2 separate regions of the Homo sapiens genome follow, and region 2 is linked to region 1. The links come from fine-mapping of genetic effects on gene expression. A gene starts in region 1. The other region holds a variant in brackets. All regions are shown on one strand. Distances are between the middles of the regions. Region 1 holds the start of FOXK1 (forkhead box K1). Region 2 holds the start of MIR4656 (microRNA 4656).

Region 1 (8,556 bases):
AGCTTATTTCACTGAGCATAATGTCCTCAAAGCTCATCACTTCACATGTCACGTATGTCAGAGTTTCCTTCCTTTTCAAGTCTGAATCATACCCCACTGTATGTGGTACCACAGGGGTAAACGCACACTTGGATTGCTTCCACCTTCTGGATCTCGTGAATAAATAACGCTGCTGTGAACATAGCATGCAAGTATCTCTTCAAGACCCTGCTTGCAATTCTTTGGGGGTATAAACCCAGAAGTGGAAGTCTGCATTGCATCTTATGGGAACTCTAGTTTGTTTATTTATTTATTTATTCGTTTATTTATTGAGACAGAGCTTCGCTCTGTCACCCAGACTGGAGCGCAATGGCATGATCTCAGATCACTGCAACCTCTGCCTTCCAGGTTCAAGCAATCCTCATGCCTTAGCCTCCCGAGCGGCTGGGACAGGTGCCCACCACCACGCCTGGCTCATTTTTTTGTATTTTTGGTAGTGACAGGGTTTCACCGTGTTGGCCAGGCTGGTCTGAAACTCCTAACCTCAGGTGATCACCCATCTGAGCCTCTCAAAGTGCTGGGATTACAGGTGAGAGCCACTGGGCCCGGCCTCGTTTTAACTTTTTGAGGACCCTGCATGCTGTTTCCCACAGAGGCTGCCCTGTGTTCCATTCCCACCAACAGTGTGTGTAAATGCCTTTGCAGGAAATCAGTATCTCCTGCATCCCTCTGCTTCTCTGCACCTCTCTCCTTTCACCTCTCTCGCTGGTCTCCAGCTTCCTGAGCAACCTCCGCCATCACTCTGACCTATTTCCAGTTCAGGATCCCCATGGCCGCTAGAGTGATTGCATTTCAGATACTGCATGTCGGTGTGCCTGCTGTCTTGCACGTAAAGCCCCTCAGTGGCTTCCCATTGCTCTAGGATCAGCCCCAGATCCTATAGGACCCACCTCAGCCCTTCTTCCCTCCTGGTTCAGCTGAACATGGCCACTCGGTTCCACACACAGTGACCACCTGCCTACCCCTCCACGGCCCATACTTCCTTCTGTATCACACAGAGTTCCCTGGCAGGGGCACTACCCTCACAGTCTCACACCACTTCCCTAATCAGGCATCCCTTAGACCTCAAGGAGGAGCCCCCTGACTCTGTTTACCATCCCCCCCACCTCAATCAAGCAGGTACTCAAGTTACTGCTCCTGCTAAAAATGCGTTCCTTGGCCGGTCACGGTGGCTGACGCCTGTAACCCCAGCACTTTGGGAGTCCGAGGCAGGTGGATCATGAGGTCAAGAGATCGAGACAACCCTGGCCAACCTGGTGAAACCCCATCTCTACTAAAAATACAAAAATTACCTGGGCATGGTGGCACACACCTGTAGTACCAGTTACTTGGGAGGCTGAGGCAGGAGGATTGCTTGAACCCTGGAGGCAGAGGTTGCAGTGAGCCGAGATCGCACCACTGCACTCTAGCTTGGCAACAGAGCGAGACTCTGTCTCAAAAAAAAAAAAAAAAAAAAAAAAAAAAAGCTTTCCTTGCCTCCCAAACACTTATCTCTGCATGCACATATTCAAGGCTGAGAGATGAGATTAATACCTATTTCAGCCCCAGACTGGAGCGTGGGTGTGCAGGTCAGGGAAGCTCCTGCCTTAGACAGGCCCAGTCTCTCGTTTACACTTGCACGTCACCATGCACCAGTCCCTCACCGGATGTATCACAGCTGTGACTTGATTTTACTTTTTCTAGGATGTGTCTTTGATTTATGTCTGCATCTCCCCCTCAACTATAAGCTCCACCAGGGAGGGAACTGTGTCTCCTTTCCCACCCTTAATAATTCGTAAATGAGGGAAATGTGGAAACTGCACCGCCTTTTTAGGGGAACCTGAACTGGCAATGGAGGACCAGGCTACTGAAGTCCGAAAGGGATCCCAATGATGCCCACGTTTGCCACTCCCTGTTTTCAGCTAAGATTTCTCTCTGGGGCATTCTCTCAGATCTGTCTTAGCTGGATCTAGCATATTGAATGAGTGAAGGGCTCCAGAAAGAAAGAGAGATAGGCTGGGCGTGGTGGCTCACGCCTGTAACCCAGCATTTGGGGAGGCTGAGGTGGCAGACTGCTTGAGCCCCAAAGTTGAACACCAACTTGGGCAATATAATGAGACCCTGTCTCTATAAAAAAATTGAAAAAGGCCAGGTGAGGCGGCTCCCGCCTGCAGCCCCAGCACTTTAGGAGGTCGAGGCAGGTGGATCACCTGAGGTCAGGAGTTTGAGACCAGCTTCACCAACATGGTTGAAACCCCGTCTCTACTAAAAATACAAAAATTAGCTGGGTGTGGTGGCAGATGCCTGTAATCCCAGCGACTTGGGAGGCTGAGGCAGGAGAATCGGTTGCAGTGAGCCGAGACTGCACCATTACACTCCAGCCTGGGTGACAGATTAAGACTCTGCCTTAAAAAAAAAAAAAATTAAAAATTAGTCGGGCATGGTGGCTCATAGTCCCAGCTACTTGGGAGGGTGAGGTGGGAAAATCACCTGAGCCCTGAAGGTTGAGGCTGCAGTGAGCTATGATTGTACCACTGCACTCCAGCCTGGGTGACAGAGTGAGACCCTGTCTCAAAAGAAAAAGACAAGAAAGAGAGAGAAGGAAGGAAGGGAGGGAGGGAGGGAAAGAAAGGAAGGAAGGAAGGAAGGAAGGAAGGAAGGAAGGAAGGAAGGAAGGAAGGAAGGCAGGCAGGCGGCCGGGCACGGTGGCTCCCGCCTGTAATCCCAGGACTTTGGGAGGCTGAGGCGGGCAGATCACCTGAGGTCGGGTTTTCAGGACTAGTCTGACCAACACGGAGAAACCCCATCTCTACTAAAAAAATACAAAATGAGCCGGGCCTGGTGGTACATGACTGTAATCCCAGCTACTTGGGAGGCTGAGGCAGGAGAATTGCTTGAATCCAGGGGGTGGAGGTTGCGTTGAGTCGAGATTGCGCCATTGCACTACAGCCTGGGCAACAAGAGCGAAACTCCGTCTCAAAAAAAAAAAAAAAGAAGGAAGGAAGGAAGGGAAGAAAGAAAGGAAGGAAGGAAGGAAAGGAGGAAGGAAGGAAGGAAGGAAAGGAAGGAAGGAAATGGAGGGAGGAAGGGAGGGAGGGAAGGAAGGAAAGGAAGGAAGGAAGGAAAGGAAAGGAAGGAAGGGAAGGAAAGGAAGGAAGGGAAGGGAAGGAAGGAGAGGAAGGGAAGGGAGGGAGGAAGGGAAGGAAGGAAGGAAAGAAGGGAGGGAGGGAAGGAAGGAAGGAAAGGAAGGAAGGAAAGGAAAGGAAGGAAGGAAAGGGAGGGAGGAAGGAAGAGAGGGAGGGAAGGAAGGAAGGAAAGGAAGGAAGGGAAGGGAAAGAAGGAGAGGAAGGGAAGGGAGGGAGGAAGGGAAGGAAGGAAGGAAGGAAAGAAGGGAGGGAAGGAAGGAATGAAGGGAAGGGAAGGAATGAAGGGAAGGAAGGGAAGGAAGGAAGGAAGGAAAGAAGGAAGGAAGGATGGATCAGGGATTCAGGGATGGATCTCAAGTGGTCTTCAGTTACAGTAGAGTATGATGACCTTTAATCTGAGGGCTTAAGAATGATCAGGCCTGGCACTGTGGCTCACACGGGTAATCCCAGTGCTTTGGGAGGTCGAGATAGATAGATCACTTGAGACCAGGAGTTTGAGACCAGCCTGGCCAACATAGCAAGACCCTGTCTCTATAAGAAGTAAAAAAATTAGCTGGGCGTGGTGGCACTTGTGAGGCAGAGGCAGGAGGGTGACTTGGGCACAGGAGGTGGAAGCTGCAGTGAGCTATGATTTTGCCACCGCACTGCAGCCTGGGCGACAGAGCGAGGTTAGAATATAAACATATGTATTGTATATAATACACATATATTTTATCTTCTGTCTATCTTACACTTTAGGGTTGGGGGCCTGGAGTGTCTGGGGCGGGGAGACTGCTGAGGTCATCCGTCCCTTTCTCCAATGACCCAGGCTCAAAACTTTGTGGCTGGGCATTTCAGGGGTCCCCTCTTCCCCCTGGATGGAGGAAAGGGCGCCCGCCGCCTGCAGCCCCGCGGGGAGGGGACGAGGTGCGCCGGGCCCAGCTCTCCCGGGGGCCCGCCGGCCCTCCCGGCACAGGCCTCGCCCCCAGCCCCGCGCTGGCGCGCGCCACGTGGGCTACGCTGGGCGGGACCGGCGGGCGGGCGAGGCGAGGCGCACGGTGGGCTGGGAGGCTCCGCTCCGCGCCGGCGCGATCTGGCCCGGGTTTCCGCGCCCGCCCAGCGCCCCGACCTCCCCGCCCCCCGCGCCGCCGCTGCAGCCGCCGCCGCCGGAGGCCGCTCGGAGCCGCGCGAACATGGCCGAAGTCGGCGAGGACAGCGGCGCCCGCGCCCTGCTCGCGCTGCGCTCGGCGCCCTGCAGCCCAGTGCTGTGCGCCGCAGCCGCCGCCGCCGCCTTCCCCGCGGCCGCACCCCCGCCGGCCCCCGCGCAGCCCCAGCCTCCGCCCGGGCCGCCGCCGCCGCCGCCACCGCCGCTGCCTCCGGGCGCGATCGCGGGCGCGGGCTCCTCCGGGGGCTCCTCCGGGGTATCCGGGGACTCCGCGGTCGCGGGCGCGGCGCCGGCCCTGGTGGCCGCGGCGGCCGCCTCGGTACGGCAGAGCCCGGGGCCGGCGCTGGCGCGGCTGGAGGGCCGCGAGTTCGAGTTCCTCATGCGCCAGCCCAGCGTCACCATCGGCCGCAACTCGTCGCAGGGCTCGGTGGACTTGAGCATGGGCCTGTCCAGCTTCATCTCGCGGCGCCACCTGCAGCTCAGCTTCCAGGAGCCGCACTTCTACCTGCGCTGCCTCGGCAAGAACGGCGTCTTCGTGGACGGGGCCTTCCAGAGACGCGGCGCGCCCGCCCTGCAGCTGCCCAAGCAGTGAGTGGCCCCGCGACCCCCGCCGCCCGCACCCGGGGCTCGCCCACGACCTCGATCTCTGAGGCCCGGGCCTGGGGATCCCCCTCCAGCTTCCTCGGCCTCGACCCCCACCCCCCGGCCCACCCCCGGTAACCCCCGACCGGCCTGGACTCCGGGGTCAACCCCGACCCCCGCCTCCTGGCTCCCTAGGATCACCCCGACCCCGATCCTGGAGGCTCCAGCCTGAGGATCTCCTCCACTTTCCCCGGTCTGGATACCCCGTCGCCCCCGACCCCCACCGGCCTGGACTCTGGGGTCAGCCCTGACCCACACCTTGCGGCTCCTGGGGTCACCCCTGACCTCATCTCCCACCGGCCTGGGCTCCTGGAGCCACCCATACCCCAAGCCCATCTGGCTGGGCCTCTTAGACCCCTGACCCAGATCCCTGCTGCTCCCCAGCTCCCATCGGCCTGGACTCCGGGGTCATTCTGAACTCCCACTGGCCTGGATCCCTGGGGTCATCTACGTCCCTACCCTGCCTAAACACGCAAGGTTAACCGCGACCCCCACTTCCTAGGCCCCCCCGGAGTCACCCCTGACCGCTAACCCCACAAGCCTGGGCTCGCAGGGCCACTCCCACCCCAGCTCCACCCAGCTGGGTTACTGAGGTCACCTTGACCCCAGTCCCTGCTGCCTGGGCCTGGGGATCACCCTCAACCCTTCCAGGTCACCCTGGACCCCCACCAGCTTGGACTCCAGGGTCACCCCAGCCTGACCTGGTTCTCAGGACCACCCCCGACCCCCACCAGCCAGGGCCTCAAGTCACCCCAGTGCCTGATGCCTGCCGTCCTGGACCCCAGTGGCTACCCCTGACCCTGTCTGGTCTGGACCCTTGGGCCACCCCCACCCCATCCAGTCTGGGTCCTGGGGGACCCCAACACACTCACCCAGGACAGTGGGAGGGTGTTGCTCCGGGAAGTGCGAGGTCCCTAGGAGTGTGGGCTGTGCTGAAGGAGCAGAGGCCTGGCGGGGAGGGGCGAGGACAGGAAGCCTGTGCCTCAGTTTACATCCCCAACTAGTGCTCCTTGGATGGAGTAGCGGGACCCCAAGATCAAATTAGATTCCCCCGGGCCCGAGGTCACCAGGGCAGAGAGACCCAGCTGGGCCTGGACGGCTGCCCAGGCCTGTCGGTGCCTTTGGTAGCATCCCGTGGTCACCTCCCGCCCATTCCGGTTCCCTCCTTTCCAGCTCCACTGCCCTCCGCACCCTCTGCTCTGCCCCGGACCTCAAGGTCTGTTGATCAGGAGAAAGCCTGTTTAATTACTCATTTCCTCTGGAGCCACTTTCTTTTTCTATTTAGTGATTGCCTCTAACTCATCACCAGTGTTTATATTTCTTCAATGTGGTTCTTGTTCAGGGTTGTCTGTCTAATTACTCCCTTTTATAAACGCCTTGCGTCTGGGGAATTTTTGCTGGGGTAATTCCCAGGGCCCAAAGTTTGTGTCTGTAAACTTCTCCCCTTTTTTAGTCTTGGCATGTTTGGTTACAGATATCGCATTGAATAATTTAAAATGCAACATCAACAATGACTCACTCCCCCTTGGGGCGTGAGAGGGGAAGTATACCTTTTTCTAACCGTGCTGAAAGGTGTGCATTTTGGTAAAATCAGAACTCAGGAGATAACAAATTTGTTCTTTGCCTCAGATATTAGTGTGTTCTCTCTCTTCCATAACCAATACACTCTCTCCGTTTGGGGCCATTAAATGCATTTCCTGGCCACTCTCCCCTCCAGTAAGAAAATGACAGGTAGGCTCCCCAGGCCCCCCTTAGAGGCCTGCTTTACAGACGCACCTTTATATAACTCAGGTTCACTAAGTACTTCCATTAAAGTCTTGTTTTCAGGTTTCCTGCCCCTGCCGTGGAAACAGGTGCACTCCTGAGTCAGGCCCAGCTTTAGTGAATCTTGAAGGAGGCTTTCACGGTATTTTTTTTTTGTAATTCAAGGGGAAAAAATTTCAACCTCAGATCGTCTACGAATAGGCCAGTAGCAAGCCTGTTATTTATGAAATGTTATCGGTGTATACAGTCCTTGCACATTTATGCTCCAGGGAGCTCGTGTTCTCGGTGGGTGCATTACCAGGCATTGTGGTGGGGCTGTCAGGCTACACAGATGCCCGCCCGCTGACTTGGTGCATTAGATGTGCGTGAAGTGCTTGGCCCACTGCGCCTGTCTGTTTTTATTTGACTTCACCTGCACATGTGAGCAATATCTATGTAGGCAGCAATGTAAAATTTACAAGAACAAAGCAAATGTGCAGAAGGAAAAACATTAAGTGGATGTCCATGTCCACCCTCCTAGAAAAGAGCTATTTGCTTTTTTTTTTTTTTTTTTTTCTGTCATGGAGTCTCGCTCTGTTGTCCAGACTGGAGTGCAGTGGCTCACTGCAAACTCTACCTCCCGGGTTCAAGAGATTCTCCTGCCTCAGCCTCCTGAGTGGCTGGGACTACAGGCGCACAACACCACGCCCAGCTAATTCTTTGTATTTTTAGTAGAGATGGGGTTTCACCGTGTTAGCCAAGATGGTCTCGATCTCCTGACCTCGTGATCTGCCTGCCTTAGCTTCCCAAAGTGCTGGGATTACAGGCATACAGGCGTGAGCCCCTGCGCCCGGCCTCACTTTTTTTTTTTTTTTTTTTAATTTTAGAAAACTTACACCTAAGTAGTCACATATGTAGAACAGGCTGTCATAAACTTTTTTGGTTAGGTAAAGATTCTTAAGCCTGGACTACATTTGGTTAGGTAAAGATTCTTAAGCCTGGACTACAGCCTCACGCCTGTAATCTCAGCACTTTGGGAGGCCAAGGCGGGTGGATCACTTGAGTTCAGGAGTTCAAGACCACCCTGGCCAATGTGGCAAAACCCTGTCTCTACTAAAAATACAAAAATTAGCTTGGCGTGGTGGATCACGCCTGTAGTCCCAGCTACTTGGGAGGCTGAGACAGAAGAATCGCTTGAACCCGGGAGGTGGAGGTTGCAGTGAGCTGAGATCACGCCACTGCACTCCAGCCTGGGCAACAGAGCAAGACTCCATCTCAATAAAAAACAAAATGAAAAAAAAAAAACCAAAAAACGATTCTTAAGCCTATTATGTTGAAAGTCATTAAGAAATTTTAAGGATTTCAGCGCAAGGAAGTTAGATGCGTAAGTTTTTGTCACCCTGAATGGGAAATTCATCACCGAATGTCAGGAATTACTGTGTCTGTTTTCTCTCCGGCTTTGGTACCTGGTATTGCCACTGCTACTGGAAATTGTGAATTTGTTTACTGTAAACTACAGATTCTCTTGCTGTGTTGGAATGTGATTGCCTTGGACGTGCTTGGATTTGGTGGGAGGTCTATGTTGTGTTGGTGCCCACACCATTTTCCAAAGCTGTGTTGTCCGGGGCCACCCTCTTCACCTTGGGACAGGTACATGCCACACACACTTCCAGTAGAGCTCCCACTCAGGAAGGATGCCAGAATTCAACCCCTATTTGTTACTGGAAGTACGTAATTCCAAATCTTCAATATTTTTAATTATTGGTGGGGGAAAAAAAAGACTTGTGACCCAGCTTAGAGCTGATCTTGCTCTACTGGGTGACACTACGCCTGGTGGGTAAGCATCTCGCCAGAGCTCCCAGG
Region 2 (8,000 bases), 100 kb after region 1:
GGCAGGAGAATTGCTTGAACCCCGGAGGCGAAGGTTGCAGTGAGCCGAGATCATGACACTATATTCCAGCCCGGGTGACAGAGCAAGACTCCATCTCGGGGAAAAAAAAAATTTATTCTTGTTTCCATAAGCAAAAGGCTCATTGAAGACATCTTTTGAAAGGCACCTTATTCTAGAGTAAATTTCCTACTCTTGAATGAGACCCCTAAAAAGAATCGGTTTTAGTCCTTCTGCCCTGGGAACAAGAAAATCTAAGTGCATGGGGCCTCCGTGAGTGAGATTCGTCATAGTGCGCTGCAGCGATGGATCGGGAAATCCCAGGGTGAGAGGAACCAGCTCAGGGAATCAGCGAATTTATCTCGAGAGCCATGAGCCGTGGAACCGTGTTCCTCCACACACTCGGCTTCTCTTTTCTAAAGAGGGATTTTCCCTGCTCCAAGGGTTATCCTTTTTTTGGTTCCGAGCAGCGAGTGCTTCTGGGTCCTGAAGTCCTCTTCTTTGTTTAGGGAGATCCAGGACGAGGAGCTGAAGAAGTTCTGTTCCCGGATCTGTAAACTGCTGCAGGCGGAGGACTTGGGGCCGGACACCCTCGACTCCCTGCAGAGGCTCTTCCTCATCATCTCAGCCACGAAGTACAGCCGGAGGTGAGTGTGGCGACGGCTCAGGCCGGCTCCTCACACAGCGGCCCCAGGAGAACCCAGCCCACGCCCAGCAGGTCACTGCAGATGCTCCTTGGGGGTTGAGTCATTTGTCCACTTAAACCAGTGCTGAAGGTCCATCCTCATGTAAAATGCTCTGTCCACTGGCCCAAGGGTGCCCGGCCAGGTGCTCTGGGGCACCGGGTGCTCCTGCCACGGTCGTGACGTGTTACCGCCCACCACGGGCATCTCGCCTTCCAGGCTGGAGAAGACATGCGTAGACCTGCTGCAGGCCACCCTCGGCCTGCCTGCATGCCCCGAGCAGCTCCAGGTGCTTTGCGCCGCCATCCTGCGAGAGATGTCCCCCTCTGACAGCCTCAGCCTGGCCTGGGACCACACGCAGAACAGCCGGCAGCTGAGCCTGGTGGCCTCCGTTCTCTTGGCCCAGGTAGCGCAGCAGTCACCACCCCAGTTGGCACCGGATGGCTGCTTCCCAAGGAACAGGGGAGACAGGAAGCAGGGGCGCCAGAGCCGGCAGGTGGCTGCTTGTTGTAGACGCATCTCGGTGCTGAGTGCCTGGCACACTTGAGGCTGGGGCATGCCCTGTTGACTGGAACGGGGTCCCATGCCCAGCAGGCCCACGTGGTATGTTGGTGCTCAGGAGAGGTGGTGGAGTTTGGTTTCTCAGACAGAGCCTTGAGACAGCGAGTCAGTGGAGGCTGGGCCTCCAGACCTTCTTTTTGGGGTTTTTGTTTTGTTTTTTAGAAACAGGGTCTCACTCTGCTGTCCAGTGTAGAGTGCCATGGAGTGATCAATGCTCACTGCAGCCTCGACCTCCCTGGCTCAAGCAATCCTCCCATCTCAGCCTCCTGAGTAGCTGGGATTACAGGCATGCATCACCACACCCAGTTAATGTTTGTATTTTTTTGTAGGGACCTGGGGTCTCACTATGTTGCCCAGGCTGGTCTCAAACTTCTGGGCTCAAGCAATCCACCCTCCTTGGCCAGGAGTTTTTGCCAAGTCCATGTCCTCCCTCCCTCTGTGTCGGGAGCAGGCCTGGGCACTCAGCGTGGGGATCCAGGGGTTCACAGGCTGCCTTTGTGTGAGAGAAGCTGCTATCTCTGCTCATGGGTTGCCCAGGGGTGCAGAGTCTGCAGGAAGGTTGCGATGGAGCTGGGCTTTTCCCTCCGTTCCCAGCCTGCAGCGTCATGAGTTGCCTCCTGTGCTGGGGTGCAGCCTGCGGTTGCTTTAGTTCTGTGTGGGCGAGAGCTTGTGGGCCCCGGCGTACTCAGGGCGTTGTACTTCATCACTGGGGTCATCCTGGTTGGTGCCCAGCCCCCTCACCTCACAGACCTCCTGCAGGCCACCTCCAGGCCTCCGAGATGACCCCGGTAATGCTGTGGTAGCTCCTGGCCTTTGGAACAAGATGACTCCGGCTCTTCTTGTTTGTTTCACCCGCCCTTCTCCTCAAGCAACTCATTTTTTTCAGTGGAAGATGATCTTGCAGAACTGCTGCCAGGCGCCAGCGGTGCACCCCCCGCCCGGCACGTGGCCTCCCAGCCACCCAGCCGCCCTCCTCCCTGCCCTGACGGCCCTGCCCCTGTGCTGGGTGTCTCTGGTGCTGCTCAGATGTTTCAGCACCTGGGTGTGCAGAGTGAGGTGGGTGGTTTAAAGACTGGGATCCACACTGGAGGCCCCGCAGGACGGGGTGTCCTGTGTCTGCGGCCAGGGCCATGGTGGCCGCCAGTGTGTTTTTAGCATTGAATCAGCCGTGCCCTCACCCAGGCCCCCTCCAGCCTCAGCGATGCAGCTCCCAGGGAGAGAGGCTGGAGGCGGAGCAGGCACCTTGTGGCCCGGGGTGGGCCTGCGCGGGACATCCTCCCTGCCACCTGCTAGGCCGGGGTCTCAGCGACCGACGCTTCTCAGGAGTGTCACACAGACTTCCGAAATGGGGGAGCTGGTCTCTGGCACAGGCCAGTACCCCAGCGTTTGCCCTGTTTGATTTGAAGGGTGACAGAAACGAGGAGGTCAGAGCCGTGGGCCAGGGCGTGCTACGAGCGCTGGAGAGCCGGCAGCCTGAGGGACCCAGCCTCAGACACCTCCTCCCCGTCATGGCCAAGGTCGTGGTCCTCAGCCCGGGCACCCTCCAGGAGGGTACGCGGGGCCCCTCCCAAGAGGCTGTTGGGGGTCTGCCTTCCCAGGTCCTTCCCTGAGGGCCCATGGTGGGTTGGGAGTGTGGGGGGCAGGTGGGGGACACGGGGAGGCCCGAGGGTTTGGGACGCTGCAGGATTCTGTTTTCTGAGAAAAGTCGGCCAGCATCCCAACAACCCAGGCATCTGTAGGATTCAACCTCACCTCCCCATGCCACCCCACCCACTGCAGACCAGGCCACCCTGCTCAGCAAGCGGCTGGTCGACTGGCTGCGCTACGCCAGCCTCCAGCAAGGGCTCCCACACTCCGGCGGCTTCTTCTCCACGCCCAGGGCCCGGCAGGTGAGGCTGGGACTGTTCTGGAACCATGGGGAACAGAGTCACAGACAACCCCTCCCTGAGAGCTCCTGTGCCCACAGCGGCGAGGCCTGCTGTCGTTCCGCGGGGTCCAGGACGAGCCTGCCTCTGCTGCGGGGCTTGGGTCAGGCAGGGCCACAGCCCCCTGACCCGTGTGGCTCTGGGGGTCTGTGCGCGGGTTCAGTCCCAGGGCCTGCGGAGCAGGGTGTGCGACGCGCGTCTGCCTGGGGGTCAGGTGGGGATGGTGTTTTTGCATCACACAGGGCGGGCCGCTGCCCGGGCTCATGTTCAGGCAGCTTCTCCTCCACCTCCTGAGGAGCTTGTGCTAAAGGCTGGCGTTTTTCCCGGCCTCGGCCCCCTCCGCCCACTCCTGCCTGTCCTTCCCACAGCCGGGCCCCGTCACCGAGGTGGACGGGGCGGTAGCCACAGACTTCTTCACGGTGCTCTCCAGCGGCCACCGCTTCACAGACGACCAGTGGCTGAACGTGCAGGCCTTCTCTATGCTGCGGGCGTGGCTGCTGCACAGCGGCCCCGAGGGCCCGGGCACCCTGGACACAGGTGTGCGGGGTGGGGGGATGACGTCAGACAGGGGTGGGAGGTGGGCGCACTATGGGTTGGTCGCAGGGGGACACGGGCGGAGGTGGGGGGACTCGGGTGTGCCCAGGATGCAGCAGAGGTCAGGACTGAGCAACGCAGCCTGCTGACCTGGAGCTAGGCGGAGAGCACTCCCTGGCCAGCATCTTTGGGGTCCAGGGTCAGCACCGGGGATCCTCTGGACACCCCGTGACCCTCATGCAATGTGCAGATGTGAGAGCTCCCACTTAAGGCAGGCACCCTTAAGGTTGTTGGAGTGACGCCACTGAGCTCCTCCCGGCTGCTCTGTGGACTTGTTGGGGAAGAAGCCTCAGCCACCCTGAAGGGCGGCCGTGATGGGGAAGCTGCCGGGTGGGTGGACGTCCTGAGACGGTGACGCCTCACGCCTCCCGGGAGGGGCTGCGGCCTGTGCTCTCCTCCTGCCCTTCCAAGCAGGGCAGCAGGCATGTCCCAGCCCGGGAGCCACACGTCAGCCTGCTGAGAGTTCCCACCTCCCGCAGATGACAGGTCAGAGCAGGAGGGCTCCACTCTGTCGGTGATCTCCGCCACCTCCTCTGCCGGCCGCCTGCTGCCGCCCCGGGAGCGGCTTCGGGAGGTGGCCTTCGAGTACTGCCAGCGCCTCATTGAGCAAAGTAACCGACGTGAGTCCCCCACCCAGGGCACTGGCCTCCCCAGGGCTCGACGCACCTGCTCTGCAAGGCCACCTGAGGCCAGCACAGCTTCCCTGAGCTACTGCTCCACAGAGGGGGTCCCTGGGTAGCCGGTTTGGAGCAGGGGCATTTTTGCTTCTGGGGTCAGCCCCAAGTGTTCTTCAGGCTCCACCCCAGCCCCCAGCCCGGCCCTGTCCCACCTGGGCCCCTCGCCTCAGTCCCACTCAAGTCCTCCTGGGGGCCTGTCCCACCCCCCTGCTCCCGGTCCTGCCTGGAGCTTCCAGAGCACAAGCTGCCCCCTCATTGGGCCACTCTAAGGCTGAGACAGAGCCGGCTGACTTTTTCCCCTCCTTCCAGGAGCCCTGAGGAAGGGGGACTCCGACCTGCAGAAAGCTGTAAGTGGCTGGGGACCAGGGGATGGGAGGCAGCGACTCGGCCCATTTGATGTGGT[C/T]CATGTCCCGCAGTGCCTGGTGGAGGCCGTGCTGGTGCTGGACGTGCTGTGCCGGCAGGACCCGTCCTTCCTGTACCGAAGTCTCTCCTGCCTGAAGGCCCTGCACGGGCGGGTGCGCGGGGACCCGGCCTCTGTGCGGGTGCTGCTGCCCCTCGCCCACTTCTTCCTGAGCCACGGTGAGCCCAGGGTGGGGTGGCGCTGACTCGGGGCTCTGCTTCTGCCTTTAGTTTTAGGATGGAATTTCTTCTTCCCTTTTTTTTTTTTTTTTTTTTGATTGAATAGAGACAGGGGTCTTGCTGTGTTGCCCAGGCTGGTCTGGAACTCGTGGCCTCAAGCGATCCTCCTGCCTTGGCCTCCCAAAGTGCTGGGATTACGGGCATGAGCCACCGTGCCCAGCTCATATTTCTTTTTGATGGATTGCTGTGCCAGATGTTGGTAATTTTTAAACTTTTAAATAGAGAAATAAACAGACTCTTTTTGCTGTGTCCCTAGCCCAGGAAACCTGAAAGTCTAGGAACCAGCACCTTCCAAAGAATGTGCCATAGTGTGTGTGACTCACGAGCTGTCCGTGTCCCTGGGCGAGGGAGACCAAGTGCCGCTTCCCCAGCGTCCCAGCGTAGGACGCCTCGGAGCCCTTGGTGTCCTGGAGAGCAGGCCTGAGACTCAGGGCCCCTAACCAGTCACAGAAGCACGGCCAGGGCGAGGTCAAGACGTGTGCCCTGGCGGGCCCTGGTCTTGCAGGGGAAGCGGCTGCAGTGGACTCGGAAGCCGTCTACCAGCACCTGTTCACCAGGATCCCGGTGGAGCAGTTCCACAGCCCCATGCTGGCCTTTGAATTCATCCAGTTCTGCAGGGACAACCTCCACCTGTTCAGCGGGCACCTCAGCACCCTCAGATTGAGCTTCCCCAACCTCTTTAAGGTATATTTGGGCATCCCTGGGTGCCAGGGCAGGGGCATGGTAAGTCCCTGGGGCTCCTCCCCTCTTTCCAGCGGGGTTCAGGGCGAGTCCTGGCTGAGCATAGAGCCCTGTGAGTCCCGGGCCTGGAATGCGGTGTGCAGGGTGAGGTGGGGATCTGGGGTGTCCCTGCAGCGTCACGTGATTGACGGTGCTGTCCAAGAACTCCCTTGTGGGTGTTTTGGAGAGGGGGCTGTGACACAAGACGGTGAGTTTGTTCTCACAGCACTGGGGCAGGGCTGCTGCCTGGTAGGATCCCTCCCCCGGGAGCCCTGCCTGGTGCCTTGGGCACTTGGGTGCCATTTGCCTTTTTTTTTTCTTTTGAGATGGAGTCTCATTCCTGTCACCTAGGCTGGAGTGCAGTGGCGCAATCTCAGCTCACTGCAACCCCCGCCTCCTGGGTTCAAGCGATTCTCCTGCGTCAGCCACCTGAGTAGTTGAGATTACAGGCACCCACCACCATGTCCAGCTAATTTTTGGTATTTTTAGTAGAGATGGGGTTTCGACATGTTGGCCAGGCTGGTCTCGAACTCCTGACCTCAGATGATCCTCCTGCCTTGACCTCCCAAAGTGCTGGGATTACAGGCATGAGCCACCGCACCCGGCCTGGTGCCATTTGCTTTTGAAGTGTCTTTTGCAGCCTCGCCTCGCTGTAAGGTCTTTTCAACTGAGGTGGGGAATCCTCTTTCTGGAGAAAAACCAGGACAGTGGAAAATTATTGACCTGTTGGTACGAAAGTAGATACAGGCTGGGGGCAGTGGCTCACACCTGTAATCCCAGCACCTCGGGAGGCCAAGGCAGGAGGATCTTGAGGCCAGGAGTTCAAGACCAGCCTGGGCAACACAGGGAGACCTCTTGTCTACAAAAAGTAAACAGCCTCACATGGTGGTGTGTGCCTGTAGTCTCAGCTGCTCAGGAGGCTGAGGTGGGAGGATCACTTGAGCCTGGGAGGTTGAGGTTGCAGTGAGCTATGATTGCACCACTGCACTCCAGCCTGGGCGACAGAGCAAGACCCTGTCTCAAAAAAATAAAAAGCGGGAGGAGGCAAAGGTAGAAGCCCTCCTGGGGACTGCAGGTCTGGGACAGCTGTGGGGCCCTAGCTGGCTCCTCCCTCTGCCGCCTGCTCCACAGCTCCGAGCCGTGTCCGAACCGCTGTGCTGTGCCCACAGTTCCTGGCCTGGAACAGCCCACCCCTCACCTCCGAGTTTGTGGCGCTCCTCCCGGCCCTGGTGGACGCTGGCACAGCCCTGGAGATGCTGCACGCGCTGCTGGACCTGCCCTGCTTGACGGCGGTGCTGGACCTGCAGCTCAGGTGGGCCCCTCACCCTCTGCCAGCGCTGCGTCTCCCAGCCAGCTGGTTCCACACACTGGGCCCCCTCCTCGCTGCTCCTGACCCCTACACCGGGGACCCTCCTTCTTCCCCCCCCAACACCTGACCAGTCCTCCCCTGCAAAGCCACCTCTAGGACAGGGTGTGTCTGTCACCCTTGGCCACTTGCCAAGGGCAGCCCCTGCACCCTGGAGTGCCTCACCCGTCTTCACGCCCAGGCCTGGAGCCTCCCATGCCAAGCCCTTCCTGGCACCCGAGGTGCTGTGATATTAGGGACACCTGCCGTGTGTCTCCCTGACGGGGGTGCCCTTGAGTGCAGGGGCCGCATCCCAGCCTGGCCTTGGGCGTCTGTCCACGCAGGTCAGCACCGGCTGCATCCGAGAGGCCACTCTGGGACACCTCTCTCAGGGCCCCCAGCTGCCTGGAGGCCTTCCGGGACCCGCAGTTCCAGGGTCTTTTCCAATACCTGCTGCGCCCCAAGGCCAGTGGCGCCACTGAGAGGTACGGGGCCCTAGGGCCAGGGGGCCACCAGTGGCTCAGAGAGCCCGGCCACAGCCACTGGGGTGGGGCTCACTGCTCAGCCCTAGGCTGAGGCCAGGGTGCTTTGTGTCCCACACAAGGCTGCGTCCCCGTCATCACCATTATAGAGGCCCTGCTTCTGCACCACGGGTCTGCCGGGGGCGGGGCCTGGTCTCAGCTCTCTCTGCTGCCCACATCAACCCTCATAAGCTTGGAGGTTGGCCCTGTGGGTGCTCCATTTTGCAGATGGACAAACCGAGCCTGAGCCCAGGAAGCAGGAGGCCTGGGACCGGCCACAGGCCTCCTGCCCTCAGCCCACGCCAGCCTTTGTCCCGATGGCTTTACTGTCCCGGGTG

What was found. PIP is the estimated chance that this variant, and not a neighbour inherited with it, causes the effect.
Region 2: its variant is the best candidate, but not a certain one, in a credible set for the expression of FOXK1 in whole blood (INTERVAL, PIP 0.61).

What each region holds. Positions count from the first base shown.
Region 1 is chr7:4,677,973-4,686,528 of GRCh38, forward strand. It overlaps FOXK1 (forkhead box K1), which reads left to right and starts at 4,323. Exons shown (of 9, transcript NM_001037165.2): 1 at 4,323-4,896. The coding sequence starts at 4,337. RefSeq lists enhancers at 3,324-3,824, 4,026-4,320, 5,180-5,707 and silencers at 4,034-4,403, 4,554-4,623.
Region 2 is chr7:4,780,669-4,788,668 of GRCh38, forward strand. AP5Z1 (adaptor related protein complex 5 subunit zeta 1) reads left to right here. Exons shown (of 17, transcript NM_014855.3): 2 at 507-644; 3 at 900-1,086; 4 at 2,648-2,792; 5 at 3,021-3,130; 6 at 3,535-3,703; 7 at 4,240-4,380; 8 at 4,747-4,784; 9 at 4,854-5,016; 10 at 5,582-5,760; 11 at 6,966-7,108; 12 at 7,486-7,626. MIR4656 (microRNA 4656) reads right to left here and starts at 7,971; the gene lies at 7,897-7,971. The variant C/T (reference allele first, on the strand shown) is at 4,841.